2 linked regions of the Homo sapiens genome follow. The protein of the gene in region 2 purifies or fractionates together with the protein of the main gene of each other region. This does not show direct contact. Each region holds a gene or a part of one and is shown on either strand. Other genes may lie near its edges. The genes, in order: LMNB1 and SEPTIN12.

The links.
Region 1: the proteins of SEPTIN12 (region 2) and LMNB1 purify together in Homo sapiens (co-immunoprecipitation; one study listed by IntAct). This does not show direct contact.

Annotation. Positions count from the first base shown.
Region 1 is NC_000005.10:126,815,017-126,818,837, forward strand, and holds part of LMNB1 (lamin-B1), read left to right. Parts: intron 1-153; exon of another isoform or gene 154-231; intron 232-1,618; exon of another isoform or gene 1,619-3,821. UniProt on the Homo sapiens protein: Lamins are intermediate filament proteins that assemble into a filamentous meshwork, and which constitute the major components of the nuclear lamina, a fibrous layer on the nucleoplasmic side of the inner nuclear membrane.
Region 2 is NC_000016.10:4,778,046-4,781,866, forward strand, and holds part of SEPTIN12 (septin-12), read right to left. Parts: intron 1,742-3,821; coding exon 1,645-1,741; intron 93-1,644; coding exon 41-92; intron 1-40. UniProt on the Homo sapiens protein: Filament-forming cytoskeletal GTPase. Involved in spermatogenesis. Involved in the morphogenesis of sperm heads and the elongation of sperm tails probably implicating the association with alpha- and beta-tubulins.

The sequences.
Region 1 (3,821 bases), on a different chromosome or scaffold from region 2:
ATCTTTCCTCTGTTCATTATTGGTAACAGACTTTATGGTAAACAGTATATTTTGAGGAATATTTTTATTAGTTGATAAATTTTAGCCTTAGAAAAATCATCAAAAATAAAAATGTTATCTTTTTGAATATTTTCCTATTGTTTGTCTTAATAGTGTTTGTTGCTGAGTCATATCAGTTTCATCATGCTGCCTATTAGGCCATAAGAATTTCCTTTTGGTTAAATAACTCAGGTTAGTGAAGTACTTCTTAAATTTTACTTAAAATTGACATGGCTTTAAAATACTGGTTTTACAAGATATATTTAAATAATATATAGATGGTAGCAGTGTTATGTTTTGGAATTAGAAATTTTACATTGCTTATAGCATCTCTAGATTTTTGACTTGGGACCAAATGAATTGGTTGGTTAGAGTCTGCTTGCCTTAGAGAAGAGTACAGTATGGTACTTAAAAACACCTCTAACTTTTGTTTTTCTAACACCCAGATTCTGGAGACTTTGGTTGCAGCTAGACCTTAATAAACCAGTACAATTACATTACATACTATAAAATATTTAAAAACCCCAAGATCATCAGAAGTCATAAAATTTAGGGTTAGTGGCAAGATCTGAGAGATCATCTAGATAGTTAGAGCTCTTCATTTTCCTTATGTGGAAACTGGTTTAGTGAGATTAGTTACAGCTTGCTTATAGCCTCATAGGTAGTTTCAATGGCAGAATTAGAAAGGAGAATCTAGGTCTAACTTCTCATACTGTGTTCCTTATATTTCACTACACAGGTGTAAGTGCAGCTACTGAAAATAGAATTTAAATATTTCTATTTAAAATACAGAATGATTCAGAGTAACTTTAAAATTTTTATACCTAGATTTTGATTTTTCCCTCTTAAAGAGCTCTACAACATCAAAGGCAGTCAAACAGAGACATCATTGGGTTTATAAATCTCGGCTCAGGTTATCTGTGAATCTTGGGTAGTTTATATCTCTCATCAACTCTCCTTTAGATTCTACCTTTTTGCCCATTCAAATATATCTTCTACCTCTGATATATGAAATAAAGGGAGGCATTTTGAACTTACATGACTTTTTTTTTTTCTTTTGGAGAAAAAGAAAATACAAGGAACATGGTAGCGGGGAAATGGATTTCTCCATTTATAGCATGATTTTTGCAAACGCAGTTAAATGCAAGTTCTCTGAGGTTCAGGGACTACCTTTGTAATATCCATCTTAAGAGGAGTGCCTGTCTAAATAGCATGTCAAGTCATATACTACTCTGGAATTTAATTAATTGATTGGTCAATTTTTTTTCTTTAAAAATATATTTTTGTGTGTGCGTGTGAACCAGGCACCCCCTCTGCCCCCAAATAGGTTTACAGTGACTCTTGATTATTTTTTAAATAACCTTGTTATTTTGGCATAATTTTAGATTTACAGAAAAGTTGGCAAAGTACTATAGACAGTTCTTGTTTTCCTCTCACCCATTTTCCCCTGTTGTTAGCATCTTATGTTACCATAGTATATTTGTCAAAACTAAGAAACTGACATTGGTATATTACTGTGAACTCGTCTCCAGACTATTTGGATTTCACCAGTTCTTCTGTTATCTTCTTTCTGTTCCAGGTGCCACATGCCTCCCCTGGTCTGTGACAGTTTCTTGGGCTTTCCTTGTTTTTTATGAGCTTGAGTCTTGAGTAAGATTGTCCAGGTATCCTGTAGACTGTCCCCCAATTTGGATTTGTCCGGTGCTTTTCACGTGATTAGACTGGGGTTTTGGGTTTTAAGTGCCCGTTTTGTCACATCGTATCAGGGATTGCACGTATGTGATAACCACATGACATCACTGGTGGTGTTTGGTTTAAGATAGTGTTTGTCAGGTTTCTCCACTGTCAACAGCGCTACTATTTTTCCGTTCCCATACACTGTTCATGGAAAACAGCTCACTAAGTCCAGCCTACCCTCAAGGGTGAAGGACAGGGCAGGACTTAAGCGCCACATTCTGGAGGGAAATCTACATTTATTAAATGGCATTCTTCTGTAACGATTTATCCATTCCCCGTTTGTTTGGTTTGTTTGTTTGTTTGTTTGTGTCCGTATGGACCATGGGCATTTACTTTATACTTTGGGTTGTAAGCTAATACTGCAGTATTTACTTTTTTGGCTTAAATTGTTTCATATTTGGCCACTGGGAGTTCTGTCAGCTTGGCCACTATGTCCCATTGTTTTTTGAGCACTTTGTTGCTTTCTGGTACTATAACATGCTCTAGGCTCATCTTGCATTTTCCCTGCCCCAGTCCTAGAATTATCCAGTCTCCAAGGAGCCCTGGTTCTTGTTATTGGAGAATGGTATATAGAAATTAAGATCTGGGCACTGAGTGTGCTCACTGGTACTGGGTATCACTGCTTCTTGGCCCTCTCACCGATAAAAGTGGGTAACATTTTATGTATGCTAACCCATGTGTATGCACATATTTATAACTTTTTCTGTCTAATCATTTGTGTTAAGATAAACATGAATTCATACAGATGTCTCTGACTTGAATCTAGTAGGACAGCATTCAATTTTGGCTTCCTTTCTGACATACCTGTATCTTTTCTCTCTCAGAGTGAGAAACCTGGTTTTTATCATCCATTTACTTATCTGTTCAGCCCCAGTATATGTTAAAGCAGTTTCAAAATTTTGAACCTGTACTGCTGTGAAAAGTAAATTTACCAGCAAGAGTACAGTTTTTATGTATTTGGTAGCTCCTTTTTATCTCTAGCCTTCTAGATTTAGTTTTTGCACATTAGATGCCCTTTCTCTCCTGCTCTGTTGCAGGTACTTGTGATTCTGAGGGCCTAAGCTATCCATCAGTCTTTTTGAGTTGTCACTTTCTGAGGCTACTGAGATGAATTCTGTCATGGAGAAACACAGAAGAATAATTACCCAGCGAGCCACAAGGTTTCTAAGATGAACTTTCTGGTGTAGGATGTGTGATTTTTAATTTTTTTATGCCAAATATACAGCTTCTATATTCACAGTAATACTTTACAAATCACCCTATATTGTGTGTCCTTTGTGTGCTAACTGAACATGAGATAGCCCAGCAATCCTAAAGGGACACTAGGTAGTGCCTTCCACATAGTAACCAGAGTCCCTTTGCCTTGGTTTCTGAATATTCCTCAGCAGTCTGCTAAAACGTACTTTTACCCACTCTTAGGTTTATTTTGTCAGTCAGTGTTTATATCTTTTTTTTTTTTTTTTTGAGACAGAGTCTCGCTCTGTTGCCCAGGTTGGAGTGCAATGGCGTGATCTTGGCTCACTGCAACCTCTGCCTCCGGGGTTCAAGCGATTGTCCTGCCTCAGCCTCCCAAGTAGCTGGGATTACAGGCGCCCACCACTACAACCTGCTAATTTTTTTTGTATTTTTAGTAGAGACGGGGTTTCGCCATGTTAGTCAGGCTGGTCTCAAACTCCTGACCTCAGGTGATCCACCTGCCCCGGCCTCCCAAAGTGTTGGGATTACAGGCGTAAGCCACCACACCCACCCAGTGTTCTTATCTTTTTAAGTTCTTTATTTAATTTATACTTTTGGAAGTAAAGGCTTTGTAAGGGAGCCAGACTTGACTTTTACCAAAACCACATCTTAACATTTTTTTGGCTAAGTACAGAAAAATTATATGTATATTTACAGAACTTACATTTGTGGAATATGTCTTTTATTCTTTTATCAGCCAAAACTATCCTGAGGTCTGTGTTTTGTATTTGAGGAATTTTGGGTTTTAATTTCTTAAAATCTCTTGAATTCTAGTGAGTTAGAGATTCCATAGGGTTGTACTGTTTTCC
Region 2 (3,821 bases):
CCTCGCCAGCCCCCTAGCCCCAGGCTCCCCACACCCTCACCGGATAAGCAGGTCTCTCAGGAGAGGAAATTCACAGTGCGCCATGTTCTCCACTGCAAGACATGGGACTCAGTATGGGCGCTGCTTAGTGAGCACTGAGTAAGTGCCTACTGTATGCACCACCTGACACCATTTCCCTTAGCCCTTTTCCCACATTTCTCTTTACCCTATCCTGCCTTCCCTTTGTTGGTTCATTCATTCATTCACCCACTGTTGTGTTCCCAGTGCCTGGTACAGGCGGCTCCTACAAATAGCTGTAGAATGAATGAATCCACCAATCATTATTGTATTATATGTACACTCGGCCTCTGTATCCATGGGTGCCCACTGTAGGACTTGAGCATCTGCCGATTTTGGTATCCCTGGGGGTCCTGGAACCACCCTCTGCGGATAGCATGGGTGCTATATCATAGGCAATAGTATAGTATATTTCTGGCTGGGCGCGGTGGCTCACGCCTATAATCCCAGCAGTTTGGGAGGCTGAGTTGGGTGGATCACCTGAGGTCAGGAGTTTGAGACCAGCCTGGACGACATAGTGAAGCCCCGTCTCTACTAAAAATACAAAAATTAGCCGGGTGTGGTGGTATAATCTGTAGTCCCAGCTATTTGGGAGGCTGAGGCAGGAGAATCGCTTGAACCTGAGAGGCGGAAGTTGCAGTGAGCCAAGATCGCTCCACTGCACTCCAGCCTGAGTGACAAAGCAAGACTCTGTCTCAAAAAAATATATATATATAGTATAGAATATTTCTAATAATTATAATAATACATCACCTGACCGGGCGCGGTGGCACACGCCTGTAATCCCAGCACTTTGGGAGGCCGAGGCGGGCAGATCACGAGGTCAGGAGTTTGAGACCAGCCTGGCAACATAGTGAAACCCCGTCTCTCATAAACATACAAAAAATTAGCTGGGCGTGGTGGCAGGTGCCTGTAATCCCAGCTCTTTGGGAGGCTGAGACAGGAGAATCACTTGAACCCAGGAGGCGGAGGTTGCAGTGAGCCGAGATCACGCCACCGCACTCCAGCTCGGGTGACACTGCGAGACTCCATCTCAAAAAAATAAAAATAAAAAATAATAATAATACATCAGGGGCTACATCCTCGCTGCCCCTCCTGTGTCACTTTCCCTAGCTCCCTAAGGCAGTCTCCTCTCCCTCCCGCCACAATCGCCTTCACTGTGCCTCCCCGACCTGTCCTTGTCCTGTCAGCTCTATGGGGACAGGGACCCTGTCAGTCCTCCCTTTACCGTGCACTGCAGTAACTGCACATAGCGGTGCCTGATACACAGTAGGCCCATCGTAATTTCCGGCCAGCCACTAGGGCAGCCTTGGGTATTGGGCATTGTGCAAAATGGTGGTTCTCCCCGCTCCAACACCCTAGGAAGTTGATGCACTGTGATGCCCACTTTACTGTGAGGAAACTGAGGCCCAGAGGGTCCGGAAACTTGCCACAGCCTCCCAGCTGGAAAGAGGGACCATTCCCCAGGGCTCTTTGTCTAGTGGGCTTCACCTTTCTGTGCCCTGTGATGGGTGCGAAGGTTGCCCAAGGCTGCTCTGGTTTCCAAACTGACCCCACCTGCATCCTACCCAGGGGCCCCGCACTGACCTTCAATGATGCCCCACTTGGTCTTCCGGCCCAGGACACACCTCCCGTTCACCAGGTGCTCTTGGTCAGCCCCTACCACGGCAAAAGGGATTCGGTCCTGGGAAAGGAGAAGACACAGAGATGGGAGGATTGACTTCGCTGGGGAGAAGAGAAGAAAAGTCAAGGCACCCAGGCAGGAGAGGGGAGTCCTATCCTTTTCGAGGAGGGAACATGGTAGAAAGTGCACAGAATTCCCAAGTTCAAAGACATAAAGTCTAATTGGTGCCTCTGGCTGAGTGAGGTAGCTCTTGCCTGTAATTTCAGCACTTTAGGAGGCCGAGGTGGGAGGATCACTTGAGCCCTAGGAGTTTGAGACCAGCCTGGGCAACATGGTGAAAGGCCATCTCTGCAAAAACTAAAAAATTAGCTGAGCTTATAATCCCATTATATTATATAGCGTATTATATAGCTCACACCTATAATCCCATAGCTCACTGCAGCCTTGACCTCCTGGGCTCAAGTGATATCCCCGCCTCAGTCCCCTGAGGAGTGAGGACCATAGGTGTGCACCACCATGCCTGGCTACTTTTTAAACATTTTTAGTAGAGATGAGTTCTCTGTGTTGCCCAGGCTGGTCTCTAACTCCTGGGCTCAAGTGATCCTCCCGCCTCTGCCTTCCAAAGTGGTGGGATTATAGGAGTGAGCTACCACACCCAGCCTGCCTGTCTTCCTATATATAAAGTTTTATTGGCACATAGTTGAGCCTATGAGTCATTTTTGTCTATGGCTGCTCTTGAACCATGACATCAGAGTTGAATCATCACAACAGAGACCCTACGGCCCAGAAAGTCTAAAACATTTACTACCTGGCCCTTTGCAGAAAAGGTTGTTGAACCCTACCGTAAACTCCAGTTGTTTACTTGCTCATGGCCAGAAGCAGAAATTCAAACTTGCAAACTCCGAAGTGACATATATGGGTTTTTACTTCTGAATTCATCTGTGATGGGGAGTAATGTGGATGTTGATAATATTGGGCGTGGTGGCTCACACCTGTAATCCTAGCATTTTGGGAGGTGAAGGCAGGCAGATCACCTGAGGTCAGGACTTCAAGACCAGCCTGGTCAACATGGTGAAACCCTGTCTCTAGGAAAAATAAAAAATTAGCTGGGTGTGGTGGCGCATGCCTGTAATCCCAGCTACTCAGGAGGCTGAGGTGGGAGAATCACCTGAACCCAGGAGGTTGGAGGTTGCTGTGAACGGAGATCCTGCCACTGCACCCCAGCCTGGGCCACAGAACAAGACCCTGTCTCTGCTGGGCACGGTGGCTCACGCCTATAATCCCAGCACTTTGGGAGGCTGAGATGGGTGGATCACAAGGTCAGGAGATCGAGATCACCCTGGCTGAAATAGTGAAACCCCATCTCTACCAAAAAGACAATAATTAGCCAGGCGTGGTATTGTGCACCTATAGTCCCAGCTACTCAGGAGGCTGAGGCAGGAGAATCGCTTGAACCCAGGAGGCAGGGGTTGCAGTGAGCGGAGATCACGCCACTATACTCCAGCTTGGGTGACAGAGGGAGACTCCATCTAAAAAAAAAAAAAAGACCCTATCTCATAAAAAAAACAACATTAAAAACAAAACAAACAAAACATTGTACGGTACGGGGGTTTTTAGTATTTGACCAGGGTTATGCAACCATCATCGCAATCTAATTTCACAACGTTTTCATCACGTCCCCCCAAAAAAACCCCATACCTTTTAGCAATCACTCCCCATTTCTCCCTTCCCCACAGCCCCTGACTACCACCAATCTACTTTCTGTCTCTATAGATTTGCCTATGCCTATTTGGGACATTTCATATAAATGGAATCCCATAATACGTGACCTTTTGTGTCTGACTGATTTTTGTCTGAGAAACATGTTTACAAGGTTCCCCCACGCTGTAGCAGGCAGGTGACAGGGTGACAGTGCTTCATTTTTTTTTTTTTTTTTGAGACAGGGTCTCACTCCCTTGCCCAGGCTGGGGTGCAACGGTGTGATCTCAGCTCACTGCAATCTCCATCTCCTGGGTTCAAGTGATTCTCCTGCCTCAGCCTCCTAAGTAGCTGGGATTACAGGCATGCACCACCACACCCGGCTAATTTTGTATTTTTAGGAGAGACGGGATTTCTCCATGTCGGTCAGGCTGGTCTCGAA